Regions from separate parts of the Homo sapiens genome. Here region 1 is linked to region 2. The links come from fine-mapping of genetic effects on gene expression. Tissue or cell type: whole blood. Region 2 holds a variant in brackets; the other region holds the start of a gene. All regions are shown on one strand. Distances are from middle to middle.

Region 1 (2,603 bases), 42 kb after region 2:
CTGATTTTCATCAAGACAGCCAGGCAGTATTTGGTAAACAGTGTACCAAGTAGCCCTGGAGACTCTGAGCAGCCTACCCCCTTAACCACAAAAACACCGGACAGGCGGAGGGAAAAAGAGAAGACAGGATCCAGGAATGGTGCACACACCCAGCCAAAGGCCACCTTCCCTCAGGCACCCAAGCCAAGAGTGGCATCCCCAGGTCCTGTTATACGTCAAAGGCTGCAGCCGTGTGGGCCCCAAAGCAATAGCACAGCTTGCTCCCCTGACCAACCAACTCCTTCTGAAAAGAAAATCGACCTTCTCTGATGGAGCCGAAACCCAATGAATCAATGAAATTCAACAGCAGCAGCAATCACTACCTCTCCAATTGCGGACCTCTCAGGATGCCTGGCCAGGCTTGAAAGCCCTAGAGGAGTAAGGAGTTCGGATTTCTGATTCAGTGAGTCTGGGGAAACTCTGAGGAGGGTCACAAGGGCAAACCTCCCCGGCCTCTCCTGCTTGGCCCCAGCCCTAGGACGTGCTGCGGTAAGGGCTTTGCTCCCCCCGCCCTACACACACACACACACACACACACACACACAGACACACACACACCACCCCCCCCCCCCCGGGACACGGAGGGTGGGAAGGAAGGAAATGGAGGCCGCTCATCAAAGCGCCCGAAATCAGCGCACCCGCGTGTGTCCTGCGTCGCCCCCCAGGCCACCCCAGGACTAAGCCCTGCCCTCTCACCGGCGCGTCCCAGCCACGCCTTCCCTCCAGCGTTGCTCCGGCACCCTCGCCTAACCTCTGCACGTCTCGGATTCCCAGCTTTCTCCTAAATCGCGTCCCTCCAAAAGTCGCCCCAGCTCCCCCTTCTGCAGCTGTCTACACCTCCCCCACTCATTAGCAGCTCTTAACCCCCGACGGCCCTGCTCCTGCACTTCCCTCTCCAGCAGGCCCCGGACCCCGGAAAACTGCCCCGCTCCCACAGCGCCGCCCCCATGGGCCCCCGCCCCTTCCCCGAGCCGACCCCACTCGCCCTCGTCCTCCCCAAGATGTCTTCTCCAGGCGCCCCCCGGGGCCCCGAGCACTCGCCCCCTCCCACAGAGACAGGAAGTTCCGCGCGGCCCGACCCGCTTCCCTCAGGGCGCGGAGCTCGGCGCGGCGGCCCTGACGGGGCGCGGGCCCGGCCGCGGACCAGCGCCCCCGCGTCCCGCCCGCGGCGCCCCAACCGTCGCGGCGACCCCTGACCTCGGCGGCCACTCACCTCCCAATCCGTCGCACACTCCGTTCAGGCTGCCACGGCGTCTCCAGACCCAGCTCCGGCCGGGCTCCCGCTACCGCTTTTGCTCCGGCAGCACTGCCCAGCCCTGCCCAGACCCCTGCGGCCGCTTCTGCCGCCAGCCGCGACCGCACCGCCCCCGCCGCTCCCGCTGGGCTCTGTCCATTGGCTACCGGACACCGAGCCCCGCCCCACAGCCTCCCCGGCGCCCCCGATTGGGCCAGATGAGTAGAGAGGCGGCTCACCCCGCGTGAGGACGAGGGAAAGCCCCAGGACGCGCATTGGTGACTTCTCCTGTCAATCAAACGGGGAGTGCCTATTTAATGGGCTGCGAGGGTGGCGCAGATTACTCTCCCAAAGCCGCTCGCTGGTGGTGGTCCTTGAGACGCGCTTCCCGGGGCTGGAGTTTTGCGGTTTCGTCGGCATCCAGGGGTAAGAGGGCGCGGCAGGGCAGCACCGCACCTGACCGGAAGTTCAGGGAAGGTAATCCTACAGTCTTTCAGAAAGTTTCCTCTCCCAAGGGACTCAAAGAAGCTAATGTCGTTAGGAGCTCCTCCGACTTGCGCCAAAAGCGTCATTCCACGTGGACCCGCTTAGTTTAAACGGGGGGTTGGGGGGGCGTATGTTGCTGCTCTCTCTAATAAAATATATTTGGATGGCAAGGCACCAGGCAATGCACACGCATTCTTTCCAATTCTCACAATCACCTTGCATGATAGGGTATTAGCCCCGTTCTGCAGAGGGAAATACTCTTGAAGGAAAATGGAGAGCACTTCCTGAGCACTGTCCTACGCGCTGTCCAAGCACTGCTTCATGTCATCCAGGTGGAGAGGATGGTGAGAGGAACCCCAGGTGAGGGGTGAGCCAGGTAACTTGCTGGGGGTGATGTGGAGTAAAGAGAGTAAATGGCAGAGCCAGGATTAGAAACCCAGGTCAGCCCAACCCTTGAGAATAATAATGATGACTGTGTAGCACTATGGGAAAATGCTTAAACTAAAACGTTAAAAGAAAAAGCCAGATAGAGCCAGGCATGGTGACATGCACCTGGAATCCCAGCTTCTTGGGACGCCGAGGCAGGAGAATCGCTTCAGCCCAGGAGTTTGAGGCCAACCTGGGCCACATAGCAAGACCCAGTTCTCTAAAAAGTAAAATAAAAGAAAATAATAATAAAAGAAAAAGCTAGATACAAAATGGTAGAAACTGTAGAATTGCTGCTACATATAGATAGGTATGAGAAAAGAGTCCACAAAGAAATCTAGTGGTTGTTTACTTTCTAGACTGCTCTGTGGCATTGTCCTTATGACAATAATTGAGAAAGAAACAAAAGAACCGGCTA
Region 2 (2,755 bases):
AAGAGAAGTCGGATTGTTACTGTGTCTGTGTGGAAAGAAGTAGACATAGGAGACTCCATTTTGTTCTGTGCTAGGAAAGATTCTTCTGCCTTGGGACGCTGTTGATCTATGGCCTTGCCCCCAATCCCGTGCTCTCTGAAACATGTGCTGTGTCCACTCAGGGTTAAATGGATTAAGGGCGGTGCACGATGTGCTTTGTTAAACAGATGCTTGAAGGCAGCATGCTCTTTAAGAGTCATCACCACTCCCTAAGCTCCAGTACCCAGGGACATAAACATTGCGGAAGGCCGCAGGGTCCTCTGCCTAGGAAAACCAGAGACCCTTGTTCACATGTTTATCTGCTGACCTTCCCTCCACTATTGTCCTATGACCCTGCCAAATCCCCCTCTCCGAGAAACACCCAAGAATCATCAATAAATACTAAATATATATATATATATTTTAAACCACCACCATTTTAGAAAAATAGTTCCTTATACATCTAGGAAAAAAAGATATGATCAGAACTGTGCACTAGGAAACCTGAAGTTGTAGCTCTGCACCAGGATGGGCCCAAAGTGGCCAAAGGAGAATTCCACCTCTGGGCTTTCCGACCTGGACACCACGCCAGGAAGCACACAGTCTACTGCCTCACTCTAAGAAAAGTCAGCCATGCTTTTACTTTTTTTTTTCTTATGTTGCCCAGGCTGGACTTCAACTCCTGGGCTGAAGCCATGTTCCCGCCTCAGCCTCCTGTGTACCTGGATTACAGATGCATGCCACTGCACCCAGCTCAACCGTGCTTTTAAATGGCTTTGAATGTGCTTCTTTATAACAGCATCTTCCTACATTTCAGACAGGACAAAATTCTAGAAATAAAAGCACACACCTGGATTTTCTAATTACGAACAGCATGTGAGGATTGTTCATTGTGAACCAGATTTATCATGACTTTTATGGCTGGGGTCAATACGGAAGTAAGAACTTTGACAGGGCAGTCATATATCTGCCCACATACTGCAGCAAACACATCTGGGACATGACCGTCAGCTCAAACAAGAATATCAGTGAAATATTCCTATCCAAAATGCCCTGCAACAAATTACTGAAAGATAAGGAGAGAAAGCGAGAAGTGGTGTTTTTAAAACAATCTTTAAAAAGAAAAAAGGCAGAAGACACTGTAAAAAGTATTTCCAGAACAGAAGGTTCAAAATGACAGACTCTGTCACAGGTCTCGCCCACAAGGCAATCCCTCCTGAGCAACTTCATTATTTCCACTTGCTCAGGAATTGACGAGCAAAACACAGGTCAAAACTTCCCCAGTGCTCTGAATTATGCAACTGGGAATCTGTACCACACTGTTTTTTGTCAACAAGGCTCCACTGAAGCTTCCTCCTTTAACTTCTCATTG[A/C]GAAAAAGACTCCAGATGCTTTCCCCATTCATTTTTCAAATGTTTCATTCAATCAGAAACTCTACATATACACTTTGGAATTTACACATTTGATAGCTGCAAAGCTCGCAAGCAAGCTCTCCAGCCAACATGCCTGCCTGTCTCCGCCCAGGTGTGGCAAGCCCCACACTTGTGCCACGCATGGCCCCCTGCCCCATAAACCCAGACTGGGTTGGCTGCTCTCCCCTGTAACTGACACAGAAACAGGCCTGCTACACTCCAGTCTTAGGCCTGGGCCCATCCTCCACTCCCGTCTCCATCATCCCTCATTGCCCTTGTTTCCTTGGCACCTAGCACAGGGCTTAGGGTCTAGGGGCACAGCATATGCTAAAAGAGGAAAAGAGAAAAGCCCACGAGAGAAATGGCAGCCTCATCCTTGGGGACACATAGCTCAGGTGTGGATGCCAAGTACCAAGAACAGAAGCGTAGCCTTAACTTGTAGCCTGATACAAATGCCAGCTCACAGCCCACGAGCTGTGGAATCGCAATTCAATTTACCTCAGAGCCTCTGTTTCCTCACCTGTATAAAAAGGACCAGCATCTCCCACCTCACATGTTACCAAGTGGATTACATGAGATAAAGCACCTGGCCTGGTGCCTGGCAGCTCACTGTTGTCCTGAAATCTATGTAAGTCTCCTTCCCTCCGTATCCCTATGTCGACTCTGCTTCCGGTTATCCGCCATCCAGTGTACCATGACTAGGTACAATGAAAAACAAAAGCCAGTTCCACCAAGGGCCTGGCGCCTGAACCGTCTACCCAAGGCCCTTTCCCATGAGCACCAAATAGCAGGTGCCATACCCAGAGCATTCACCTGTTAATTAGATATGATCTACTTCTAAACAGTAGGGAAGGATGCCAGCTCCCCTTTGCCAATGATTTCCATTCCCTCAATGCTCCTGGTCTAAGCCACGCCTAACTCCTCCCCACTGGAGAACAGTAGAGGAGAGTGCTCTTCCTGGTGAGTAGGGGCAGAAGTACCACATACAGGCTTCTTGTCTGGGTAGAGGCCATCCATTAAAAGATCATAAGCACCAGCCATGGCCAACATGGTGAAACCCTGCCTCTATTAAAAATACAAAAATTAGCTGGGCATGGTGGTGTGTGCCTGTAATCCCAGCTACTCGGGTGGCTGAGGCACCGTAACTGCTTAAACCTGGGAGGTGGAGGTTGCAGTGAGTTGAGATTGTGCCACTGCACTCCAGCCTGGGCAACACAGTGAGATCTTGTCTCAAAAAAAAAAAAAAAAAGAAAAGAAAAGAGAAGAAGGAGGAGGAGGAGGAGGAGAGGAAGAAAAGAGAAAGAAGAAGAAGAAGAGGAGGAGGAG

What was found. PIP is the estimated chance that this variant, and not a neighbour inherited with it, causes the effect.
Region 1: PACSIN2 starts here. The variant in region 2 is fine-mapped to the expression of PACSIN2 in whole blood (TOPMed, PIP above 0.99).

The regions. Positions count from the first base shown.
Region 1 is chr22:43,013,769-43,016,371 of GRCh38, forward strand. It overlaps PACSIN2 (protein kinase C and casein kinase substrate in neurons 2), which reads right to left and starts at 1,381. Exons shown (of 11, transcript NM_001184970.3): 1 at 1,253-1,381. RefSeq lists enhancers at 983-1,686, 1,669-1,868 and silencers at 1,109-1,178, 1,299-1,348, 1,359-1,548.
Region 2 is chr22:42,972,088-42,974,842 of GRCh38, forward strand. All of the region lies in intron 1 of PACSIN2 (protein kinase C and casein kinase substrate in neurons 2), which reads right to left. Among named protein-coding and RNA genes, the nearest start is that of PACSIN2, 42 kb to the right of the region's middle. The variant A/C (reference allele first, on the strand shown) is at 1,391.